4 linked regions of the Homo sapiens genome follow. The protein of the gene in region 1 purifies or fractionates together with the protein of each later gene. This does not show direct contact. Each region holds a gene or a part of one and is shown in the gene's direction. Other genes may lie near its edges.

Evidence for each region. The genes of interacting proteins can lie anywhere in the genome.
Region 2: the proteins of FOXP1 (region 1) and VPS33B purify together in Homo sapiens (affinity purification with mass spectrometry, with the first as the bait; one large-scale study listed by BioGRID). This does not show direct contact.
Region 3: the proteins of FOXP1 (region 1) and ZNF148 purify together in Homo sapiens (affinity purification with mass spectrometry, with the first as the bait; one study listed by BioGRID). This does not show direct contact.
Region 4: the proteins of FOXP1 (region 1) and NUP155 purify together in Homo sapiens (affinity purification with mass spectrometry, with the first as the bait; one large-scale study listed by BioGRID). This does not show direct contact.

Annotation. Positions count from the first base shown.
Region 1 is NC_000003.12:70,975,229-70,978,728, reverse strand, and holds part of FOXP1 (forkhead box protein P1), read left to right. Parts: intron 1-699; coding exon 700-901; intron 902-1,006; coding exon 1,007-1,086; intron 1,087-1,686; coding exon 1,687-1,788; intron 1,789-3,500. UniProt on the Homo sapiens protein: Transcriptional repressor. Can act with CTBP1 to synergistically repress transcription but CTPBP1 is not essential. Plays an important role in the specification and differentiation of lung epithelium.
Region 2 is NC_000015.10:91,005,595-91,009,094, reverse strand, and holds part of VPS33B (vacuolar protein sorting-associated protein 33B), read left to right. Parts: intron 1-118; coding exon of another isoform or gene 119-191; intron 192-1,130; coding exon 1,131-1,225; intron 1,226-1,521; coding exon 1,522-1,626; intron 1,627-2,048; coding exon 2,049-2,145; intron 2,146-2,365; coding exon 2,366-2,443; intron 2,444-2,649; coding exon 2,650-2,723; intron 2,724-3,035; coding exon 3,036-3,122; intron 3,123-3,310; coding exon 3,311-3,401; intron 3,402-3,500. UniProt on the Homo sapiens protein: May play a role in vesicle-mediated protein trafficking to lysosomal compartments and in membrane docking/fusion reactions of late endosomes/lysosomes.
Region 3 is NC_000003.12:125,232,326-125,235,825, reverse strand, and holds part of ZNF148 (zinc finger protein 148), read left to right. Parts: intron 1-1,496; coding exon 1,497-1,615; intron 1,616-1,886; coding exon 1,887-3,485; 3' UTR 3,486-3,500. UniProt on the Homo sapiens protein: Involved in transcriptional regulation. Represses the transcription of a number of genes including gastrin, stromelysin and enolase. Binds to the G-rich box in the enhancer region of these genes.
Region 4 is NC_000005.10:37,364,607-37,368,106, reverse strand, and holds part of NUP155 (nuclear pore complex protein Nup155), read left to right. Parts: intron 1-3,500.

The DNA of each region.
Region 1 (3,500 bases):
AACAAATGACAGCTGGTGGGGTCAGGCCCATTGTGTTTAATATGAGTAATAAATAGGCCACACATATTTGCAGGAGTTCTCGTCATCCACGAAGCTGCATGAGGGAGCTCAGTAGGCTCTTCCTGGGCTGTCTAGTATGGTAGCTACTAGCCACATGGGGCTCTTTCCATTTACATTTATTAAAGTTTAATTTTAATAAAAATCAAGTAAAAACAGCTCTTTGGTTGTGCTAGCATATTGCAGAAATTCTGCTGGACACTTCTTCAGATCTACACCAGCGTATCCCAACTGGTGTCACCTAAAATACTCAGCTTCACTGGTATTGCTAAGGACTTCTCTCCCTCTTTGAGGTTGACAAGGCCTGATGGGCGATCAAAGCCTATAGGTGAGACATCACAATGAAATAAATGTCTTGACTCAGGGTTTCTCACACTCCCTCAGGTAGGTAACCCCTTTTTGAGCCTGTAAACACCCATGTAGCAGCCTTTGGAAAAGAGACCGCTGCCAGAGATATCTTACACTGCATCCTAAGTGAATTCACGCAGGACTCACCGTGTGTTTCGGTTCATGGTAAACATACCATCTACATAGAGGAAGAAACGGTGCCCACGCATCCTCTGTGTTACTCCTGCTAGATGTGGTTCCTGGGTTGCTCTGGTTTTCTGAAGGTCTTCTAAGACGTTGTTTTTTTCCTTGCAGTTGAATCTGGTATCAAGTGTCACTCTCTCCAAGTCCGCATCGGAGGCTTCTCCACAGAGCTTACCTCATACTCCAACGACCCCAACCGCCCCCCTGACTCCCGTCACCCAAGGCCCCTCTGTCATCACAACCACCAGCATGCACACGGTGGGACCCATCCGCAGGCGGTACTCAGACAAATACAACGTGCCCATTTCGTCAGGTAGATACTCCACCTTTTGCCTCACGTAGAGTTGTAATCTGCAATTCTTGTAGACCAGCCCCTTTTGAAAAAGTGATAATTAATAGGACAATGATTCTTATTCAGCAGATATTGCGCAGAACCAAGAATTTTATAAGAACGCAGAAGTTAGACCACCATTTACATATGCATCTTTAATTAGGCAGGTAAGTAAATAACACAGTATATGAAATTCTGTCAGAAGGTATATGTGTACATGGATATATATTGATGAAGTAGATTTAAAAACCGTTTAGTATGCAAGCATGCTGAAACCTTTTCTATAAGGTTTTTTAAAACTGCAATATATAACATAATTGCTTTTGATTAAGTATTACAATACGATGTGATTATTAGGAAATTCATTTCACACAACAGTGAAAATGAGCCTGTTTAAAGATGGCAAGTCAATTATCACAAGCTACAGTAATCTCTGATCCCTAGAATTAATCTGAGCTCTAAATAATTACTGAGCTTTAATCAGCTAGTGAAATGTTTTGCATTTCTCTTTGATTCTGCTTTATGAATGACTAATAAATTAATATTTCTGTACGGAAACAGAAATAAAAACTCAAAACAATTAGATAATTCCATTTTGAATTTTGCTATTGAACTGTTAAATACAACCATTAATCTTAGATCATTTTGTAAAACCTTTCTCAGGATTTAGCTCTGAATCACAGTGATTTTATATTTTCGAGAAACTGTGGAATGACGACTCTGCTGATTTGGTCATAAATTATCTTCTGTTACATTCTGCTTCACAGGCCATTCTCGAATCTCCAGAAAAGCAGCTAACACTAAATGAGATCTATAACTGGTTCACACGAATGTTTGCTTACTTCCGACGCAACGCGGCCACGTGGAAGGTAAGCTTTCTCAGGCCTGTTTATTCTTGGATCTTGACGTTCATAGAACAGTTTGTTGTTGATAAAATGCAGTTGTGCTATAAGGAAGCTACATTTATATTGTTTTGATACTCTTAAAGTGTCCAATCTCTAGGTGTATTTGATTGGGAAAATAGTGCCATTGTGGTTGAAATGCTCTGATGGAAGACTCCCATTATACCAGCATCAGCAGTGTGGAGGGGCCAGCCAGTAAAGTGATCTCTCTCTGGTTGGAATATGTAGAGAAAAGGAGACAACACCGTCGCCCAGAAGTGGAGGTTGCCATATTACTTGCACAAACCTCATGCCGTTAGGTCTTCAGCCACAGCCGATATTTGCAGAGATGTATCTCCAGCGATCTATCTCCAGAGATGGAACCTGGAGAAATGACCAAACTTGACACAGCCTTCAATGGTTGGATAAATAGCTCATTAACCCAATTAGTAGAGAAAGCTGTGCAATCCAAGCACTAGCACTGTTTGTAGGAGTTATTAATGGAGAACACAATGTATTATTAAGGGGCAGGGGTTTTTGTTTTTCTTTTTTTGGTTTTAAGTCAAGAGATTGTCGGCCAGGCACAGTGGCTCATGCCTATAATCCCAGCACTTTGGGAGGCTAAGGCAAGAGGATCACTTGAGCTCAGGAGTTAGAGACCAGCCTGGGCAACGTAGCGAGACCCTGTCTCTACAAAAAAAATTCAATGAATTAGCCAGGCATGGTGGCATGCACCTGTGGTCAACAGCTACTCCAGAGGCAGAGGTGGGACGATTGCTTGAGGCAAGGAGGTTGAGGCTGCAGTGAGCCCTGTTCATGCCACTGCACTCCAGCCTGGGCAACAGAGCAAGACCCTGTCTCAAAAAAAAAAAAAAAAAAGGAGATTGTCCCTCATAGATATACTAAGGAAGAAAAGTAGATTTCGAACTTCATTATATTCATTATAATACTATTTGCTGTAAAAACAAGTCAAATTGCATAGCTCTTTATTGGATGCCCCCAGTAGTGCTTGGGGTCATATATGGCTTACCTCATTCCCAGGTCAGCAGCTGGCTCAAAGATTCCACTGGTATTTACTCCCTTATATTAGATTGATCCCTCACATATTTTTGGGCTTTCCCATTTTTGATTTCTTGGTGTCTAATATTCTTGCTTATAGAAGGGGACAGGTACACTCTGTCATTTGTATTTTTGCATTTTTTACTACCTGGAATTCTTGTAATCCCTGAAATCCAAAACATTTAGAGACATGTGATAACAAACATTTGAGGCTATTTTTACATGCCATTAATCTAAATATGATAAGGATGTGTTATAGGACACAAGGAAAACTTCCTTCGCCTGAAATAAATGCCTTCCTTGCTAATTCCTTAATTTTATACCGGAGAAAAACCAAAGCAAAAGACAGAAAAATACATTTCCTCTGTTAAGTTCCTGATAAATTAGCATTTTAAAAGAAAACGAATATAACCATAGAATTAATTCATCAACTTTACAGAGCTGTGAATATCCATTATGGCCCAAATTATCCTTTCATTTCCATTAAGACACATGGGCACTGAAGGGAACCTATGTTCAAAATCTTACCCTCTTTGCCTCAGCCTGCCTTGGAAGATAAAATATGAAAGGATCTTTAGCCATGAATGCTTTAAAAAATTTAGGAAGTCGAAGCATGAGGCAGACATTTTCTTCAGATTGCC
Region 2 (3,500 bases), on another chromosome or scaffold:
ACAACCCAAACCTGATCACAGCCCTCCCTGCTGGAAATAGCAGCGGCTCAATATAAAGCCCAGAATCCCCAACATGCCTCCTATCCCTTGCACAGTCTGGCCCCTCCTGTCCCATTAGCCTCATCGTGTGCTGCTTCCTTCTCCTGACTCGCCACCCTCCAGCCAGAGAGACTTTACCCATGCTTTTCCAGGTACCCAGAACGTTCTCCACCCTATAGCTTTTTGCCTTCCCGAGTCTTACCCAAATTCTAAGCTTGATTTTCTCTTCTTGAGGGAAGTCTTTCCTATACCCCCAGTTGTGGTTACATCCCTTTAATATATGTGCTCACAGCTTGCTGTTTGACCTCTTTGGAGCACAACCGTGATTTAATAGTTTGTGTCATAATTTGTCTGGTGTGTCTCCCTCACTAGACTGTAAGCTCCAGAAGGTTGGGAGCATGTCCATTTTGCTCACTGCTGTATCTCTGGTGTTCATACAGTCCTACATGTAGGCAGCTTTCAGTAAATATATGCTGAATAATGAATGAGTGAGCTGGGCGTGGTGGCTCACACCTGTAATCCCAGCACTTTGAGAGGCCAAGGCAGGCAGATCACCAGAGGTCAGAAGTTTGAGACAAGCCTGGCCAACATGGCAAAACCCCGTCTCTGCCAAAAATACAAAAATTAGCTGGGCATGGTGGCGTGCACCTGTAATCCCAGCTACTTGGGAGGCTGAGGCAGGAGAATTGCTTGAACCCAGGAGGCGGAGGTTGCAGTGAGCCGAGACTGCACCATTGCACTCCAGCCTGGATGAAAATTGCTAAACTCCATCTCTAAATAAATAAATAAATAATGAATGAATGAATGTTTTCTCGGCACTTTTGGTCAGCCCTCTAGTAAAAACCCACCACTTATCACATTGTATTACAGGCTGCTGTGGACACATCTCCTTTCCTTATCAGACTGTGAGCTCCTTAAGGGCAGGGACTGTGTCTTATTCTTCTTTGAGCCTCCATTGCTTAATGCAGTACTGGCATGTGGCAGGCACTCATATATTTGTTGCACGCACTCAAATATTTGTGGCGGACCTTCCCTCTTAACGTGGAGCTAAGTACCTTCTGCAGGGAGGCTGATGCTCTCTGTCCCCACAGATGTGAGCTGTGATGAATGGGCCTTCTCTTTGCTGCCTCTTGATGTGGATCTGCTGAGCATGGAACTACCAGAATTTTTCAGGGATTACTTTCTGGTAAATGCAGAGGCCCTTGTGTCTTGGCATCAGGGGATGGGGACAAATGTGGGATGCAGAGGGCTAGAAATACCAATATAACCTTTGTCCAACGCAAGTAATTTATCACAAGTGATAGTGATGTGGTGATTGAGTGCTACAGATTGGTCTCTGTGGGACTTCCTGTGGAGCCAATGAAAACCTTTCAAGCATCCCCCAGGCCCTGCCACCCTGCTCCAGGGCTTCTAGGGCTAGCCACTTTCCAGGTGGTCCTACTGGGTTGATTCATATCTTTGTGGCTTGTGTGGTCCCTGCAGGAAGGAGATCAGCGTTGGATCAACACTGTAGCTCAGGCCTTACACCTTCTCAGCACTCTCTATGGACCCTTTCCAAACTGCTATGGAATTGGCAGGTGCGCCAAGGTAAGAGCACTAGCAGTACTGTTGTCCCAGCAGACGCTGTTTTCCCTGTTCTGTACCCTCCTGGGGTTATCCAAGGGCACCTGTGATATGAGGTGTATTCTTTACTTTGCTTTCATTGTTCTGGAATAGATCCTCAGAGAGGAGAACTTGTGTGGCTAACAGAGAAGCAAAAGCCAGGATCTCCTGGGTAGCATTCCTAAATCTCTTTTTATTTTGGGGACAGAGTAACACATCTTCTCATCAGTAGGAAGAGTGTTGGGGAAAGATAGACACAGACGGGAGTAGATAGGGCCATATTGTGAATAATTAGCTCCTGTCTCGGGGACAAGAGGAAGTATCACGTGGAAAGGGCTGACTTCTGTAGGTATGGGGCTGCAGTAGGGACCTGGACACAAGACTGAGAATGTCTTGGGCCCTGGCAGATGGCATATGAATTGTGGAGGAACCTGGAGGAGGAGGAGGATGGCGAAACCAAGGGCCGAAGGCCAGAGATTGGACATATCTTTCTCTTGGACAGAGGTAAATTATGCCCAGCGTTCCTGTCATCTTTCAGCCCTAGAAGACACGGGAATATGGAAGGCGTGGTGGCAAAGTTAAAATCCTAAAGTTAGGGCTGTGAATCCCAGCTTTGAGGAGCGTGGGTCCTTGGCCCTATGGAAAGTATCAAAGCTGCCCTTGGACATGCTGTGTAGAAGGCTGGGTCAGGGAGAACCTTCATGGTCAGGGATCTCTGTTTCAGATGTGGACTTTGTGACAGCACTTTGCTCCCAAGTGGTTTATGAGGGCCTAGTAGATGACACCTTCCGCATCAAGTGTGGTAAGTGCTATGGTCCTCTGCATCTTGGCAAGATGGACGGGTCATCAGCCTTGGCACCTCCCACGTGGGGCAGGGTTTGTGGGAGAGACCCAGACCCTGAATGAACTGCTGGCTTCCAAATAGTTTGAGGACCTTTATGGCAGTTCAGGGAATGGTAGGAGAAGTCCTCATTGGAGATCCTAATAGCTGTCCCTCTGCTCTCAAAGGGAGTGTCGACTTTGGCCCAGAAGTCACATCCTCTGACAAGAGCCTGAAGGTGCTACTCAATGCCGAGGACAAGGTGAGGGTGTGGGTGCTAGCAATGGGCCCACCTAGGGCCACTGCTTATACCAGGCTGTGGGCCCCCTGCTTATACCAGGCTGTGGGCCCCAGCTCTGAGAGGGGAGGCTGAGTCTATGGGAGAGAGGGTTTCCCCACCAGTTCAGAGCATCTCCTAGAACACGGTGTAGGCATTTGATATGGACTTACAGATCCCAGCTCAGCTTTCTTTGTATTTCTGCCAGAACACCTGAGTACCCTTCCTGTACTGTCATTCTACTGCTAAGTTATGGTTCTGACAGAGTAAGCTGTTCTTGTCTTACTGTCCTCACAGGTGTTTAATGAGATTCGGAACGAGCACTTCTCCAATGTCTTTGGCTTCTTGAGCCAGAAGGCCCGGAACTTGCAGGCCCAGTATGATGTGAGGCTCCAAGCCCTGCTCCTCTGTTTTGTTGCCTCAGTGGCTTCCCAAGGCTGCTGCCCTTGGGCTCCCCTTCTAATACTATGACAGGTTCCCTGTCCTTTCTCATGGATGGATGGCAACTGAGGGAGGGTGGTGGTTTCTCGTGTCTGAGGTTGGGGGGTTCACCTTTGGGAATTTTCCCACAGCGCCGGAGAGGCATGGACATTAAGCAGATGAAGAATTTCGTGTCCCAGGAGCTCAAGGGCCTGAAACAGGAGCACCGCCTGCTGAGTCTCCGTAGGTTTCAGCTTGAGGGGCGTGAGGGGAAGTGACTGTGTCCCTCTGGGGAAAGCTCCAGAGGACCATTACTCCCGAGGAGGAGATCCCTGTTCATCT
Region 3 (3,500 bases), about 54 Mb from region 1:
ATGGTTTCCAGCTTCATCCATGTCCCTACAAAGGACATGAACTCATCCTTTTTTATGGCTGCATAGTATTCCATGGTGTATATGTGCCACATTTTCTTAATCCAGTCTATCGTTGTTGGACATTTGGGTTGGTTCCAAGTCTTTGCTATTGTGAATAGTGCAGCAGTAAACAACTCAGTAATTTGAAATTTAAAAAAAGTTTAACTCAATGATTATTGAGTTGAAAGTACTGAGTGCCATAGAAGAGGTACAGATAGAATTCTGTGGAAACTTAAAGATACCTTTCACCTGGGAGAAAAGGACAGAGTATCCCAAAGGAGATGGGTTGGGTCTCAAAGGGAATATAGTATTTGAACACCCAAAGGTGGACATTCCCAATCGAAGGAGCAGCGTGAATCAGGGCAAAAGTAGGAAAGCATGAGATGGTAGGTATTTCGGTTTGTCTGAAAGGGTTACCAAGAGAAAGAGTGAAATATAAAGATGTAAAAGTAAATCAGAATAGACATAGTGTTGTTAGTTGTCTTTTTAAAATGTGTGTATCTTGTTTTCCCAATTATGTTATAAACTTTGAAGACAAGTAGTATGTCTTATACTTTTAACCTCCTACAACAAGGGGTTTGGATATAGTAGTAGTATTTGGTAAAAATTTTGTTAAATGTATGAAAGGGAGAAACAGTAGTTTCCCCAACAAGCATTATTCAAGGTAACTTCTTGTCATACCCTTCTGTTTACTTAGACTGTGGTTTTATCAGTAAAAACTATTTTAGAGCTTCATAGTAGTGGTTCTTTACAGCTTAGAAATCATTGCGGGGGCCAGTGGCACAATGGATAACACACCTGACTATGAATCAGAAGATTCTAGGAGTCATTAGGGGATTTTCAAAAATGGGGGTTATGTGTTATGTGTCCAATTAACAATACTCAGTTTAATTCATTCCCTAAATGATATGGGAAGTGCTGGCTTGAGTTGAGGAAAAGAATAAATATAAACAAACTTAAGACTCTAAGTTCTTTTTGTATTTTATTAAATTAGATTTTAAAGGATATTTTCAGGATTCAGATTTTATTTAACCACAAATGTTTTAAAAAAGGAATTGAGTTAAAAAACTGTCTCCAGGAATTGTGTTGTATTGTGCATGGGTAACTTTTTGTTTTTTACTGTTATACAATATTTTATATGATTGAAAAAAAGATTAGAAACATCAGCTAGTCTGTTCATATTGCTATAAATTCCTGGCACTGCTGTTCTCCTTGGAAAGAGGGTATTACATACGCACATAACAAAAAGACAGGAAAATGGACTGTGCCTGTATTCATCCTTTTCTTTCCAATAGCATATGCTAATCCTTTTCATTTTTATAAAGCAAAATATATTTGACAAATGAAATTGGAAGTTACAACTTTCAAAAGCCATTTATTTTAGAGATTCTTATGGCAAAGCAATTCATTATTTTACAATATTTGTTTTGTTTTAAACTTTCTATATTATGTGCTAGGTGAAAAACCATTTCGCTGTGATGAATGTGGTATGAGATTCATACAAAAATATCATATGGAAAGGCATAAGAGAACTCATAGTGGAGAAAAACCTTACCAGTGTGAATACTGTTTACAGGTAAGAGAGATGGCTTGAAATTCTTCTACTGTAATTAAATTATACAATAATTATAAATTAGATTAGAAAATATTACAACTTAGAGCTATTTAAGGGGCCTTCTAACTCTTACAGATTAGATTTATAATAGAAAATTGGCTCAGTGAATTTGTTTGGAATTATGTATGTTATTGCATTAATATATCTTTATATTAATTGTTTTGTTTCACTTTTTCTTTTCTTGGTTGACCAAAACCACAAACAACCCACTACCATCCTCTGAATTCAACAGTATTTTTCCAGAACAGATCGTGTATTGAAACATAAACGTATGTGCCATGAAAATCATGACAAAAAACTAAATAGATGTGCCATCAAAGGTGGCCTTCTGACATCTGAGGAAGATTCTGGCTTTTCTACATCACCAAAAGACAACTCACTGCCAAAAAAGAAAAGGCAGAAAACGGAGAAAAAATCATCTGGAATGGACAAAGAGAGTGCTTTGGACAAATCTGACCTGAAAAAAGACAAAAATGATTACTTGCCTCTTTATTCTTCAAGTACTAAAGTAAAAGATGAGTATATGGTTGCAGAATATGCTGTTGAAATGCCACATTCGTCAGTTGGGGGCTCGCATTTAGAAGATGCGTCAGGAGAAATACACCCACCTAAGTTAGTTCTCAAAAAAATTAATAGTAAGAGAAGTCTGAAACAGCCACTGGAGCAAAATCAAACAATTTCACCTTTATCCACATATGAAGAGAGCAAAGTTTCAAAGTATGCTTTTGAACTTGTGGATAAACAGGCTTTACTGGACTCAGAAGGCAATGCTGACATTGATCAGGTTGATAATTTGCAGGAGGGGCCCAGTAAACCTGTGCATAGTAGTACTAATTATGATGATGCCATGCAGTTTTTGAAGAAGAAGCGGTATCTTCAAGCAGCAAGTAACAACAGCAGGGAATATGCGCTGAATGTGGGTACCATAGCTTCTCAGCCTTCTGTAACACAAGCAGCTGTGGCAAGTGTCATTGATGAAAGTACCACGGCATCCATATTAGAGTCACAGGCACTGAATGTGGAGATTAAGAGTAATCATGACAAAAATGTTATTCCAGATGAGGTACTGCAGACTCTGTTGGATCATTATTCCCACAAAGCTAATGGACAGCATGAGATATCCTTCAGTGTTGCAGATACTGAAGTGACTTCTAGCATATCAATAAATTCTTCAGAAGTACCAGAGGTCACCCCGTCAGAGAATGTTGGATCAAGCTCCCAAGCATCCTCATCAGATAAAGCCAACATGTTGCAGGAATACTCCAAGTTTCTGCAGCAGGCTTTGGACAGAACTAGCCAAAATGATGCCTATTTGAATAGCCCGAGCCTTAACTTTGTGACTGATAACCAGACCCTCCCAAATCAGCCAGCATTCTCTTCCATAGACAAGCAGGTCTATGCCACCATGCCCATCAATAGCTTTCGATCAGGAATGAATTCTCCACTAAGAACAACTCCAGATAAGTCCCACTTTGGACTAATAGTTGGTGATTCACAGCACTCATTTCCCTTTTCAGGTGATGAGACAAACCATGCTTCTGCCACATCAACACAGGACTTTCTGGATCAAGTGACTTCTCAGAAGAAAGCTGAGGCCCAGCCTGTCCACCAAGCTTACCAAATGAGCTCCTTTGAACAGCCCTTCCGTGCTCCCTATCATGGATCAAGAGCTGGAATAGCTACTCAATTTAGCACTGCCAATGGACAGGTGAACCTTCGGGGACCAGGGACAAGTGCTGAATTTTCAGAATTTCCCTTGGTGAATGTAAATGATAATAGAGCTGGGATGACATCTTCACCTGATGCCACAACTGGCCAGACTTTTGGCTAAAAAAAAAAAAAAAGT
Region 4 (3,500 bases), on another chromosome or scaffold:
GGCAAAACCCTGTCTCTACAAAAAGTGGCTGGGTGCGGTGGCTCACGCCCATAATCCCAGCACTTTGGGAGGCTGAGGTGGCAGATCACGAGGTTAGGAGTTCAAGACCAGCCTGACCAACGTGGTAAAACCCCGTCTCTACTAAAAATACAAAAATTAGCTGGGTGTGGTGGCTCATGGCTGTAATCCCAGTTATTCAGGAGGCTGAGGCAGGACAATCGCTTGAACCAGGGAGGCGGAAGTTGCAGTGAGCCGAGATCGCGCCACTGTACTCCAGCCAGGGCAATAGAGGGAGACTCTTTCTCAAAAGAAATGGGAGGCCCAGGTGGGCGGATCACGAGGTCAGGAGATGAGACCATCCTGGCTAACATGGTGAAACCCCCATCTCTACTAAAAATACAAAATAATTAGCCGGGCGTGGTGGCGGGCGCCTATAGTCCCAGCTACTCCGGAGGCTGAGACAGGAGAATGGTGTGAACCCGGGAGGCGGAGCTTGCAGTGAGCCGAGATCGCGCCACTGCATTCCAGCCTGGGCGACAGAGTGAGACTCCGTCTCAAAAAAAAAAAAAAAGGAAAAAGAAAAATGCTGTTTGGCTGGGCTCGGTGGTTTACTCCTGTAATCTCAGCAATTTGGGAGGCAAAGGTGAGTGGATCACTTGAGGTCAGGAGTTTGAGACTAGCCTGGCCATCATGGCGAAATCCTGTCTCTACTAAAAATACAAAAATTAGCCGGGTGTGGTGGCACACTCCTGTAGTCCTGGCATCTCGGGAGGCTGAGGCAGGAGAATCTCTTGAACCTGGGAGGCAGAGGTTGCAGTGAGCCGCCATTGCACTACAGCCTGGGCGACAGAGCGAGAGCCCATCCCAAAAAAAAACCCCAAAAACAAAAAAAAAATTAGCTAGGCATGGTGTCATGACACTGTAGTCCTAGCTACTCACGAGGCTGTGGTGGAAGATTGCTTGAGCCCAAGAGGCTGAGGTTGCCCTGAGCTGTGATTGCACCACTGCATTCCAGCCAAGGCGACAGAGTGAAACCCCGTCTCAGGAAAAAAAAAAAAAGAGAAAAAGAGTTCGGCCGGGTGCAGTGGCTCACATCTGTAATCCCAGCACTTTGGGAGGCCAAGGCAGGCGGATTACGAGGTCAAGAGATTGAGACCGGCCGGGCACGGTGGCTCACGCCTGTAATCCCAGCACTTTGGGAGGCCGAAGCGGGCAGATCACGAGGTCGGGAGATCGAGACCATCCTGGCTAACACGGTGACACCCCGTCTCTACTAAAAATAAAAAAATTAGCCTGGCGTGGCAACAGGCGCCTGTAGTCCCAGCTACTTGGGAGGCTGAGACAGAAGAATGGCCTGAACCCAGGTGGTGGAGCTTGCAGTGAGCTGAGATCAGGCCACTGCACTCCAGCCTGTGAGACTCCGTCTCAAAAAAAAAAAAAAAAAGATTGAGACTATCCTGGCCAACATGGTGAAACCTTGTCTCTATTAAAACTACAAAAATTAGCTGGGCGTGGTGGCTCATGCCTGTAATCCCAGCTACCCGGGAGTCTGAGGCAGGAGAATCCCTTGAACCAGGGAATTGGAGGTTGCAGTGAGCTGAGATCGCGCCAATGCACTCTAGCTTGGCGTCAGAGCGAGACTCCGTCTCAAAAAATAAAAATAAAAAGATAATTGGGGAAGGAGTGAACAATGATAAAAATGAAACATGATTGGGGATATTACTGGTTATTAAGTTGGATAATCAGTACATGGGTATTTATTGTATTTTTCTTATATATATTTTAAAAATTTCCATAATACACTTCAAGATTGTTTTATATGTCAGTTTTCCTTAACATCTTTGTACTCTATAGAACCTGAGAAAGTGCCTGAGATAAGTAGGTCATCAGTCAGGTCTAAATAACGCCTTGTCCGGGAGCAAGGGTAGGCTGAGTAGACCAGCCCACTCCTGTCCTTAGTGATGGAGTCTTAGAGCAAGAGAAAGGTTGCCCATGAGAACACTTTATAGAGCAGTCTTTGTTTTTATCCCCCCAATAAGATACTGCTTGTGGGGTATTATTTGTATTTGTCTTAGTGGTCTTGGGGATAAATCTAAAGGGAAAAGTCATGGGTTGTTTTAATCTATAAATGTTTAGCTGGTAAAGGCAGTATTTTCCCCCAGTCATTATTTTGTTTGCTTATAGTCATTTTACCTTTGAGCCCCAAAGCAGTTTTATATTTTCCCATTTCAGATTAGCAAAATGATAGAAAAACACTAAATTATTATTTTTAAATTTTTTTATTTTTAATTTTGTGTGTACATAGTAGGCGTCTGTGTGTGTGTGTGTGTGTGTGTGTGTGTGTGTGTGTGTGTATATATATATATATTTTTTTTTTTTTTTTTTTTTTTTTTCTCCCCGAGACAGAGTCTTGCTCTGTCACCCTGGCTGGAGTGCAGTGGCACGATCTTGGCTCACTGCTGCCTCCGCCTCCCAGGTTCAAGCAGTTCTCCTGCCTCAGCCTCCCAAGTAGCTGGGATTATAGGTGCTTGCTACTGTGCCTGGCTAATTTTTTTGTATTTTTAGTGGAGACAGGGTTTCACCATTTTGGCCAGGCTGGTCTTGAACTCCTGACCTTGTGATCGGCTTGCCTCTGCCTCCCAAAGTGCTGGGATTACAGGCGTGAGCTACCGCGCCCAACGGTGTATATATTTATGTGGTGCATGAGATGTTTTGATACAGGCATGCAATGTGAAATGATCACATCAGGGAAAATGGGGTATCTATCCTCTCAAGCATTTATCCTTTGTGTTACAAACAATACAATTACATGCTTTCATTTTGTTTATTTATTTATTTATTTATTTTTGAGACAGAGTCTTGCCCTGTCGCTCAGGCTGGAATGCAATGACACAATCTCAGCTCACTGCAACTTCCGCCTCCCGGGTTCAAGCAGTTCTGCCTCAGCCTCCGCAGTAGCTGGGATTATAGGCGCACGCCACCAGGCAGGCTAATTTTTTGTGTCTTTAGTAGAGATGGAGTTTCACCATGTTGGCCAGGCTAGTCTCAAACTCCTGACCTCATGATCCTCCTACCTCGGCCTCCCAAAGTGCTAGGATTACAGGCTTGAGCCACTGCGCCCAGCCACTTTTATTTTAAAATAACACTAAATTATCAAATTTAAACATTTCCAGCTGGGCACGGTGGCTCACACCTGTAATCCTAGCCTTTTGGGAGGCCGAGGCGGGCGGATCATGAGGTCAGGAGATCAAGACCAGCCTGGCTAACACGGTGAAACCCCGTTTCTACTAAAAATACAAAAAATTAGCCGGGTGTGGTGGCGGACGCCTGTAGTCTCAGCTACTTGGGAGACTGAGGCAGGAGAATGGCGTGAACCCGGGAGGTGGAGCTTGCAGTGAGCCGAGATTGTGCCACTGCACTCCAGCCTGGGCGACAGTGCGAGACTCTATCTCAAAAAAAAAAAAAATAAAATAAAATAAACATTTCCTTTGTTACAGAGC